Linked DNA regions of Homo sapiens. The protein of the gene in region 1 purifies or fractionates together with the protein of each later gene. This does not show direct contact. Each region holds a gene or a part of one and is shown on either strand. Other genes may lie near its edges. The genes, in order: TTC33, SLC4A1AP and SKIC3.

What was found.
Region 2: the proteins of TTC33 (region 1) and SLC4A1AP purify together in Homo sapiens (affinity purification with mass spectrometry, with the first as the bait; one large-scale study listed by BioGRID). This does not show direct contact.
Region 3: the proteins of TTC33 (region 1) and SKIC3 purify together in Homo sapiens (affinity purification with mass spectrometry, with the first as the bait; one large-scale study listed by BioGRID). This does not show direct contact.

What each region holds. Positions count from the first base shown.
Region 1 is NC_000005.10:40,728,370-40,732,025, reverse strand, and holds part of TTC33 (tetratricopeptide repeat protein 33), read left to right. Parts: intron 1-1,682; coding exon 1,683-1,764; intron 1,765-3,549; coding exon 3,550-3,656.
Region 2 is NC_000002.12:27,670,256-27,673,911, forward strand, and holds part of SLC4A1AP (kanadaptin), read left to right. Parts: intron 1-3,656.
Region 3 is NC_000005.10:95,516,872-95,520,527, reverse strand, and holds part of SKIC3 (superkiller complex protein 3), read left to right. Parts: intron 1-3,205; coding exon 3,206-3,382; intron 3,383-3,467; coding exon 3,468-3,612; intron 3,613-3,656. UniProt on the Homo sapiens protein: Component of the SKI complex, a multiprotein complex that assists the RNA-degrading exosome during the mRNA decay and quality-control pathways.

The DNA.
Region 1 (3,656 bases):
AAGCAAATAACACCAAATTTATATTCACTTACTTTGAGTAGTAAGTGAATTAACTTTTTGGGAAAATAATTGTATGTTAAATAATTGTATTGAAAGTGCTTTGTAAAACATAAAATGCTTTGGAAATATAAGTGTTGCTATGTGGTCTGAAGTGGTACTCATAGTTAGTGGGCTAGAGCCACTGGAGGAGGTCTTCATGAAGAACGGAGCATTTTAACTTGGTCTTAGAGGAGGAGCCTTTGAATAGATGAAGAGGAGTAGGAAGGCAATCTTAGATATGTGATATGGTTTGGCTCTGTGTCCCCACCCAAATCTCACCTTGAATTGTAATAATCCCCGTGTCAAGGATGGGACCAGGTGGAGATAATTGAATTATGGCGGCAGTTTCTGCCATGCTGGTCTCATGACACTGAGTTCTCACGAGATCTTATGGATTTATAAGGGGCTTCCCTGTTTGCTCAGCGCTCATTTCTCTCTCGTGCCTCCATGTGAAGAAGGATGTGTTTGCTTCCCCTTCTGCCATCCTTGTAAGTTTCCTGAGGCCTCCCCAGCCCTGTGGTACTGAGTCAATTAAACCTCTTTCCTTTATAAATTTCCTAGTCTTGGGCAGTTCTTTATTGCAGCGTGAGAGTGAACTAATACAGATGTGTGTGTGTGTATGTGTAGCAGGGGATCCATACTAACAAAGGCATGATATGTGGGTAGGGACTATAAAAACCCTGCTGAGTGGAGCACAGGTATGTGTAGGGAGTGGTAGAAAAAAGATTGGACAAACAGTCCAACCTTTTCCTTCTAATGCTGGAGGAAAGACATTTGCTACTATTAAGTCTTGCAGAATTTATTACTGCTACCTTTGTTAGAAAATTGTGAGTGGAAGGATTGTTATGAAGGAATACATCAATAAATTAATTTCCAAAGTTTTTCCTGTCACATCTACAATAACATTTGGAAATATTGTTTAGAGAGGCTTGAAATCACCCACAATATGCCTAAAGAAGTGCAAGTACTTTCTTTTTAGGTGATATAGTTACTGCTTTTAGAGGTTATATCATTAAAGCTTAGTAGATGATGGCACCACAGTACTAAATTTATTTAATGTTGTATATACTTTTATTATTATTATAAATAATCAGAAATGGGTGTTAAATTATACTAAGTATTGTTTAGTGGCATGTACTTTTTTCTCCCTTATCTGTTACATATGAACCCATTTCTAAGTTTTTCTGAGCATACACTACATGATCATGTGGATTTTGTACTTTAGTAAGTTGCTGGACTTAATTTGCTAATCCTTTATTTTGGATTTTTACATATATTTCATGGACTAGAAAGTAGTCCAAAAAACTGTTGAACTGAAAGTACATGACTGCTCCTCCTGAAAGCAGTCTAAGAGTAGAATGGTGTTTGCCCGGGGGTGGAGGAGGGGGCAATGAGGAGTTATTGTTTAATGGGTATGGAGTTTCAGTTTGGGAAGATGAAAAAGTTCTGGAGATGAATGGTGGTGGTGGTTGCACACAAAGGTGAATGAACTATATGTACTTAATGCTACTTAATGCCTCTGAACTGTACACTTAAATGGTTAAGATGGTAAATTTTATATTTTACTACAATAAAAATTTTTTTTTGAAAGTCCAAAAAAGCATATTGAAAATATGGCATTGATATAACTTTAACAACCACAGATATCGGGAGGCAATTCAGAAGTGGGATGAAGCACTACAGTTAACTCCAAATGATGCTACCCTATACGAGATGAAATCACAGGTAATAATTATGAAGAATTTCACTTTCCTTATGAAATTGTGCTATGTTTGTTCGGTGAGTGAGCAATGATGAAGCAAAATAGCATTTTCTCCCATTTTCTTTTACAAATACGGTTTCTTTGGGAAAAAATATTTCACCATTATTTATGGTTCTGTCTTATGCATAAAACTGGAAATTCATTTGCCTTTACAATGAAGTTAACTGTTATTTTAGCCTAACTATTGTAAGATAGGAATCGGTGGCTATCTTTTAAAGTCACTGGTGGGCAGGTGCCATGGCTCACGTCTGTAATCCCAGCAATTTGGGAGGCCGAGGTGGGTGGATCACTTGAGGTCAGAAGTTCGAGACCACCCTGACCAACATGGTGAAACCTTGCCTCTACTAAAAATACAAATATTAGCTGGGCGTGGTGGCACATGCCTGTAGTCCCAGCTACTTGAGAGGCTGAGGCAGGAGGACCACTTGAACGTGGGAGGCGGAGGTTGCAGTGAGCTGAGATAGTGCCACTGCACTCCAGCCTGGGTGACACAGCGAGACTCCATCTCAAAAAAATAAATAAGTAAATAAAAAATAAATAAAAAGTCACTGTTGAGCTCTTAGATGAAAAACATACGCTTTCCTTGTGATTAAATATAGTAGACTTAGCAAAATAGTTCAGTTTTCTTAAAAATGAGGATGGATTGGGTTCTAGATGAGATATTTCTAAAAATGGCTTAGTCCTTAGCAAAAGGTCAGCATAGATGCAATTTTATTAATAGCTTAAAAATAACATTTGTACTTTAAAAACATGTTTCTAATATTTTGTAGGAAAGTCTGTAAAGAAAACCTTTGAGCACTTGAATAGGTTATCCAAGTGATTTTAAAAGTCTCACACAGAGCATTAAACATATTTTTGGCAGGGAATTGTTGCAATTCAGCCTTAATCTGCACACCTAACAAATATTTTTCAAATCGTGATCTCAAATATAGGACACACATTTGTCACCTTTGACTTTAGTTTATCCAGGAAAAACCCAAATAAATTATGTCATCTGAATCAAGTGATATGAGGACCTTCATTTGTATTCCTTTTTCAATCTTAAATATGTATATATGAATGACAGGTTTGTGGCAAGCTTTATGAAGACTTGTTTAATTTGGAACCTGATAATAATGTTTGTATCACAAATCTTTTAAAGTGTTAATGGTCCTAAAGATTATAGATAAAATCCAGCCTCTTCCCACAGACCACAGTGGAGGGTACTAGAACTCTCTGGTAACCCTAACTCTCCCTAACCCTAACCCTAACCCTAACCCTACCTTCCTAGTATGTATGGTTTGAAATGCCCAGTAGTGAGAAGGCCTAGGGAATGTTTTAAATACTTTTTATAACATAAAGATGTTCATTAGGGACGGGATGGCTGGTTGAACAAATTAATTCACCTAGTTTAATGGCAATACCTGGGGTTCCCTGAAAACCACATTGTAAATAGAATAAATGGAAGTGGAATTGGGAGTTCAAAATACCTCTGAGCCACCATAGTTAGGATATGACCACTTGGTTTTGACCAGATGGACATAAGATTCAATAACTGGAAAGGGAATCGTTTACATTTTCATAGTTATATAAGGGGTGAAAAGAGAACTATAATTTCTTACCCTGAATGGCAGAGTAAGGGGTAAAAATCACCGAAATGCTATTTTTACTGGACTAAAAATATATCTTAAAAAATGAAAAGGGTTTTTTATGTAGTTGCTAGTTTATGAATATTACTGACAGATTTTTTGGTCTTTTTTTGCCTATAGGTGCTAATGTCTCTTCATGAAATGTTCCCAGCAGTACATGCAGCAGAAATGGCCGTCCAGCAAAATCCACATTCATGGGAGTCTTGGCAGACTTTGGGACGTGCTCA
Region 2 (3,656 bases), on another chromosome or scaffold:
CCAAAGTGCTGGGATTACAGGCATGAGCCACTGCGCCTGGCCGTATCACGAATATTACATCAATACATTAATATGTATCAATACATTAATTGTGTATTTTGCTTTTTTTTTTTTAAAGTCTGAGTAGAGCATCATTTATTAATAAGGCTTATATTATATTTTTATTATTGCAAAGTAACTTATGTCTGGTTCAAAACTACCAAAAGGCTTATAATAAAATATACTTGTTCCTTGCCCTACCCATCCTCAGTCTTCTTCCCTAAAGGCTTTCAGTTTTTTCAGTTATTTATTCTGGCATTTAAAAACACCTGTATTTCTTGGCCGGGCGCGGTTGCTCACGCCTGTAATCCCAGCACTTTGGGAGGCCAAGGCAGGCGGATCACGAGGTCAGGAGATCGAGACCATCCTGGCTAACACGGTGAAACCCCGTCTCTACCAAAAATACAAAAAAAAAAATCAGTTGGGTGTGGTGGCAGGTGCCTGTAGTCCCGGCCACTTGGGAGGCTGAGGCAGGAGAATGGCGTGAACCCAGGAGGCAGAGTTTTCATTGAGCCGAGATCGCGCCACTGCACTGCAGCCTGGGTGACAGAGCAAGACTCCGTCTCAAAAATAAATAATTAATTAAATTTAAAAAAAAACAACAAACACCTGTATTTCTTTTCTTTTCTTTTTTTTTTTTTTTTTTTGAGATGGAGTCTCACTCTGTCACCCAGACTGGAGTGCAGTGGCATGATCTTGGCTCACTGCAACCTCTGCTTCTCGGGTTCAAGTGATTCTTCTGCCTCAGCCTCCTGAGTAGCTGGGACTATAGGTGCGTGCTCCACACCCAGCTAATTTTTGTATTTTTAGTAGAGACAGGGTTTTACCATATTGGCCAGGCTGGTGTCGAACTCCTGACCTCATGATCCGCCTGCCTTGGCCTCCCAAAGTGCTGGGATTACAGGCGTGAGCCACTGCGCCCAGCCTAAAAACACCTGTATTTCTAAGAACAAGAGTATGGTGTTATATTTTTAGTCACTTATTTTAGACGTTACCTGTCGACTCTGCTAAATTAGTATTTAGTATTTACGTGATTATGCTTATGCAAATATTAGTTATAACTGAGCAGTTTTATTTCTTTTTGTTTTTCCTAAGGGTAATAATTGCGTTTGCTTTTCATGTGTTTGGGGCTTTTTTGTATTTCTTGCTCATTCCTCCCACACCTTTCAGTAGCCTCACCACATCAAACAACTTAATGATTAAGTAATTTATCAGTTCTGATTTGTTTTGGAGACACTTTTTCTGAAGAGCACTATTTTTCTTTCAGGGCTTATTGCTCTGCAGATCTGCTACAGAACTGTCACCTGGGACTTAACTTTCCTATCATCCTTAAGATTTCTTTGTCCTTTCTCCAGGGTTGACTTTTCTGTTTCTTGATTCTCATATTCTCATATTTCTTGGTTTATTTCCTTGCACAGTAGTACATCCTTCTGTACTTTTAGCAGATTAAAAAGCTGGTACAACACTAGAGGGCATGGGTGATGATAGTCTTCAATGAATTTCACATCTTTCCTTTTCTTGGTCTACTCTCTTGTTTTGGTGGACATCCTCTAGTAGATTTCAGAGAAAGAGTGTATAGGAAATAAATTTTATTAATCCTTCTCTTCTGAAAATATAATTATTGTAGCTTCACTCCTGATTAATAGTTTGGCTGGGAATACAATTCTAAGTTGGAAACAATTTTTCTTATTTTACATTCAGTGTTGCTTTTGAGAAATCCTAAACTGTTCAGATTTTGATCCTATTGTATGTCATCTTTTTTTTCCGCCTTGCCAGAGCTTGTAAGAGTTTCCCTTTGTTCTAAAGGTTCTAAAACTATGAAGTACTTTTCTGTGGGTCTATTTTTCTTCATTTTTCTGGGTACTTGTTGGATCCTTTTGATCTAGAAACCTTGGCTGTTCAGGAAGTTTTCTGCAATTATGTCATTAATTGTTTCGTCCCTCTGTTTTCTATGGAATTTTATTATTCAGACATTGGACCTCTTGGACAGACCATTTAAGTTTTTTTTCTTCTTTTTTTCATCTGTATGTCTTTTCCTTCTTGAGAGATTTCTGCACCTTTATCTTTCTGTCTTCTCTATTTTGCCATCAAGGTTTTAATTTCTTTCTCTTTTTTTAAAGTTTTTAAAATCAGGCAGTCTTTCATGCCAGAGAAGGCTCAGAGACTCCAAGGTTTTAATTTCTAAAAGTTCATTTTTGGTTTTTGAATTGTCCTTTTTAAAACATAATATCCTCTTGTTTCATGGGTTGTAAATATCTCCTCTCTGTTTTCTCCATGTTATTTTTCTTTTTATGTGGTCTCTGTTCTGCATGTTAAAGGCTTTTCTTAGGTGTCATGTAATTCTTCATTGTAGTTTTTTTATTTGGGGATGAAAAAGGTGATTGACAGTTTGGAATATATAGGTGGGGTTTCTGCATGGAATATATAGGTGGGGTTTGTTGACTTTGAGCAGTACTATTGAATGATGTGGGTGGGCCTTTTGTTGGGGAACCCTTGATTTAAGTATCCTTTTGGTTTTCCTCGTCTGTGAGCGAGATTCCCCAGAGAGTGCTCTTCCAATCTCCTGCCTGAAACGAAAGGACTGGCTGCCAGCATTCCTAGAGCTAAGTGGTAGAAGGTGGCTGAGTGGCTTCTCATTCAGCTGTTTTCAGGACAGTACTATTTTTAGATTATAGTGCCCATGCCTTCAACTTTACTAGTCAACTCGTAATCCAAAGGCTTTCTGTTTTACCCTTTCCAGAGATTAACCTCTGGATTTCTACTGCAGATGGAAAGGAGATGAGTAGGCAGGGAGGAAGATCTATTTCTCAACCAGTTTTTACTTAGTCCTCCATAACCTTAGTATCCATCCCCAGTTGCAGATCCGTTTGAGGATTCTGCAGTGTAATCACTTTGGCTCTCAGCTTTCCCCACTGTTTAGGATTTATCTTTTTAAATTCTGCTAAGTTAGTTTCTACTCATCTGTCTACTTTCTAATTTTCTAAAATTTGGGTCTTTATGAATTTCTTTCTCTCTCTCTCTCTCTCTCTCTTTCTTTTCTTTCTTTCTTTCTTTTTCTTTTCCTCCTTTCCCTCCCTTCTCTTTTTTCCTTTCCTTTCCCTTACTTTCCCTCCCTCCCTCCCTCCCTCCCTCCCTCCCTCCCTCCCTCCCTTCCTTCCTTCCTTCCTTCTTTCCTTCCTCCCTTCCTTCCTTCTCTTTCCTCTATGCTGCCCAGATTGGAGTGCAGTGGTCTGATCACAGCTCACTGCAGCATCAACTTCCGGGGCTCAAGCGATCCTCCCGCCTCAGCCTCCTAAGTAGCTGGGACTACAGGTGCACACCACCATGCCCAGCTACTTTTTTTAGATTTATTTTTAGTAAAGGCAAGGTCTTGCTATGTTGCCCAGGCGTGGGTACATCTCTTTACTATGGTTTATTGGGATTTAGGGAAAGAGGGAAATTAGATATGTGTGTTTAATGTACCATCTTAACCTGCAAATTAGGCTTATATTAATAAGGACTATTTTCCTTGCAAATAATAGAAGTCCAATTCAAACTAGCTTAGGGGAAAGGTCATTGGCTGCAGAAGCTGGGAAGAATAGCTCAGGATGAAGGAACAGGAGTGAAGGAACAACTGC
Region 3 (3,656 bases), about 55 Mb from region 1:
TTTCTTCTGCTCTTAGTAGTGGCTGGCATCCTAGATGCATAGGAAAGAATAGGAAGGAAGGAGCAGTCTGCTAGTGGAACAGCAGCTCTGACACCATGTGTTAGTGTTCTCTTTCAGTAGGCCTGGAAATGAGTATCTTTAATTGGAACCGATTGGGAAATAGGGCTTCAGGTGCTCAATATGCTGTACATTCAGTGGTAAGAGCCAATTGTAGGATTATTAGTAGGTCTTGAAGGTAAGGGGAAATGACAATCTGATTGCTCCTGAGGAGAAACTGTGAAGGAAAAAAGTGATGTGTCTAATAACAAGAAAGGAATCAGAAAATTTTGAGTAGATTTGGCATTTTATAGAACTGTGAATTCATTGGTTAGGTCAGAAAAAGTGTTATCTGTGGTAGAAGACTTCCAAAAGTCCACAAGTTAGATGTACATTTGAATTTTTTGTAACTCTTAAACATCTTTCTTCTACTTCCCCTCTTTTCCTGCTTGGTTTCTCCTCTGTTTTGTATTTATTGGTTGTTCCAGAATTGCTTTTCATATGAACCAAATATGAAATGAAAACCTAACCCTTTTTTATCTCACTGAATTTTATTGCTACTTTTCAAGTCTCACATAATGTAGTTCTTTCTAAAGGGAAAGTTACTGTGTAAAGGGCATGCTTTATTTGAACTGCTATTTAAGAGTAAATGTGAACCTTTGGGTGACAGTACCTTAGCTATAAATACTGCCTCTCTGAGCCTAGGAAATGTTATTCTGGATAACATGTAACATAACCCATTAGAAGGTGGCATATAAAACAATTATAATCTCCAAATGTATATTTACTTCCAGACTTACAAGGCGTTAATACTATCACAATTATTGTGTAAGGGTGATATAAGTTACTTCAATTTATAGATATTTTATTTTTATTGAACTCAAAATAAGAATTTAGGCTCTTAAAATCGCCTGTTTCACTTTTTTCCTCTCTTCTCATTTTTTGCTGTCAATTTTAGAAATTTTGCTAAGATATTTAGGCAAAGGAACTCCAAATCATATTGCCCTTCTTTCAGATTCTCAGTGGGCTTTTAGTTATGACCACAATAATTAATATTATTTCTTAGGAAGACATTGGAAAATTATTTTTGGCTGGACTCCATGAGTAGAAAAGGCTATGAAAAATGTTCCATCTGCTTTTCCATCTGCCAGTAACATAGCAGCTTGTGATAGCTGATTATTGAGACTTGGCTTAAATGAAATTGCCATGTGTTATTTATAAGATCTCGAGAAGAGAAAAATGAAGAAAAATGTATAGCTGAAGTTTTTCTCATTCTAAAAGGAATTGCCCTCTGTCACCATAATTAATATTTCTCTTTGCTTTTTGAGCTTGTTCATTCAGTCTGCTCTTGTTTCGGTAAATGTAGTTCTTCAGATTTTTATGTTTAGATTTTTGTTTTTTTTTTTTGGTCTCAGGGTATTAATGTTCAACATCACCAATCATCAGGAAAATGCAAATCAAAACCACAGTAAGGTATCATGTCACCCCAGTTAGGATGTCTGTTATTCAAAAGACAAAAAATAAAGGCTGGCAAGGATGTGGAGAAGAGAGAACTCTTATATGGTTTATGGGAATGCAAACTAGTGTAGCCACTGTGGAGAACAGTATGGAGTTTTCTCAAAAAACTGCAAATAGAACTACCGTATGATCCAGCAACCCCACCACTGGGAACTTATCCAAAGGAAAGAAAATCATTATATCAAAGAGACATCTGTACCCTCATGTTTATTGCAGCACTATTCACAATAGTCGAGATATGGAATCAACCTAGATATTCAACAACAGATGAATGGATAAAGAAAATGTGGTATTTATATGCAATGGAATACTATTCAGCCATAAAAAAGAATGAAATGCTATCATTTAAGGCAATTTGGATAGAACTGGAGGACATTATGTTAAGTGAAATAAGCCAGGAACAGAAAGTTAACCACCATATGTGCTTACTCATATGTGGAAGCTAAAAAAAAAATTGATCTCATAGAAGTAAAAAGTAGAACAGAGGATACTAGAAGCTGGGAAGGGTAGGGGGAAAGGATATATGGGTAATACTTGTTAAAGGACACAAAATTACGCTAGATAGGAGGAATAAGTTCTAGTGTTCTGTAGCATTGTAGGATGACTGTAGTTAACAATAATATATAGTTTCAAATAGCTAGAAGGAGGATAGTGAACATTCCTAACACAAAGAAATTATAAATGTTTGAGATGATTAATATGCTAATTACCCTGATCTGATCACAATACATTATATGTATCAAAACATCTCTGTACCTCATCAATATATATAGTTATGCCAATTAAAAAATAAAATTTACAAAAATCTTTCAGATCTTACCAAATATATTTGGTATATTTTATTTGAGGTGTCTTCATCAATTTTTTGCTGCCATAACAGAATACCATGGACTGGTTAATTTACAAAGAACAGAAGTTTATTTGACTTGGTTCTGGAGGCTGATAAGTCCAGGAGCATGGTGCTGGCATCTTGGTGAGGGTCATCCTATGGCAGAAGGGCAGAATGCAAGAGAAAAAAAATGGGACTGAACCTACCCTTTTATCAGGAGCTGACTCCTGTGACAACTAACCCATTCCTACAATAACAGTATTAATCCATTTAGGGAGGCAGAGCCCTCATGACATCATCACCTCTTAAAGGTCCTACTTCTCAACATTGTTGTCCTGGAGATTGAGTTCCCAACTCATGAGCTTTGTGGGGATGTAGTCAAAACTACACAGCATGAGAGAAGATCTAAAAGCAAAAACCTGAGTTTACAACTGTCAGTTGTAAGAGAGTTACAAACTTTACTGCCTTGGTCATTGCTTAAACACAAAAAGCATAGTTTTAACATTTTAATATTAAAAGGAAATTGGTCCTGGAAAACTTATTTATTTATTTGCGTGATTGCTGCTACTTCTAATAAAAATGGTGAAGAGTAACAAAAAAAAGTGTCCACAAAATTTCTGGCACTTAAAGTAATCCCTTCCTCCTTCCCTTTCTCCTTTTCTTCTTCCCTTCCTATTAGGGAGGTGATATGATATGATTCAGTTAGGAGGAGACTAGTAAAGTACTTAATGTACAGTTTTTCTGTTTTAAGTAATAATCAGGGAGATAAACTTCATGCTTTTTATAAATAATTTGTAAGAATCACAATGTTTCTTTTTTTAGTGCTCTACAGCATCGAGCTGATGTGTCCTGCCTCTGGAAGCTAGCTGGGGATGCTTGTACCTGTCTGTATGCTGTCGCACCATCTAAAGTGAATGTTCATGTTTTAGGAGTCCTTCTAGGTCAGAAAGAAGGAAAACAAGTATTAAAGAAAAATGAGCTCCTCCACCTTGGAGGAAGGTAATTTGCAAAGATTGCCAGTTAATAACATTTGAATTGAATTAAGGCATTGTAACAAAAAACATTCACTTTTATATTCCCGTAGGTGTTATGGTCGTGCATTAAAACTGATGTCTACATCTAATACATGGTGTGACCTTGGAATTAATTATTATCGCCAAGCACAACATCTAGCAGAAACAGGCAGCAACATGAATGATCTTAAGGAGTTGCTGGAGAAATCTTTACATGTATGGTATAAATAAATTTTTTATAAACCTTTTCAAAAACATAA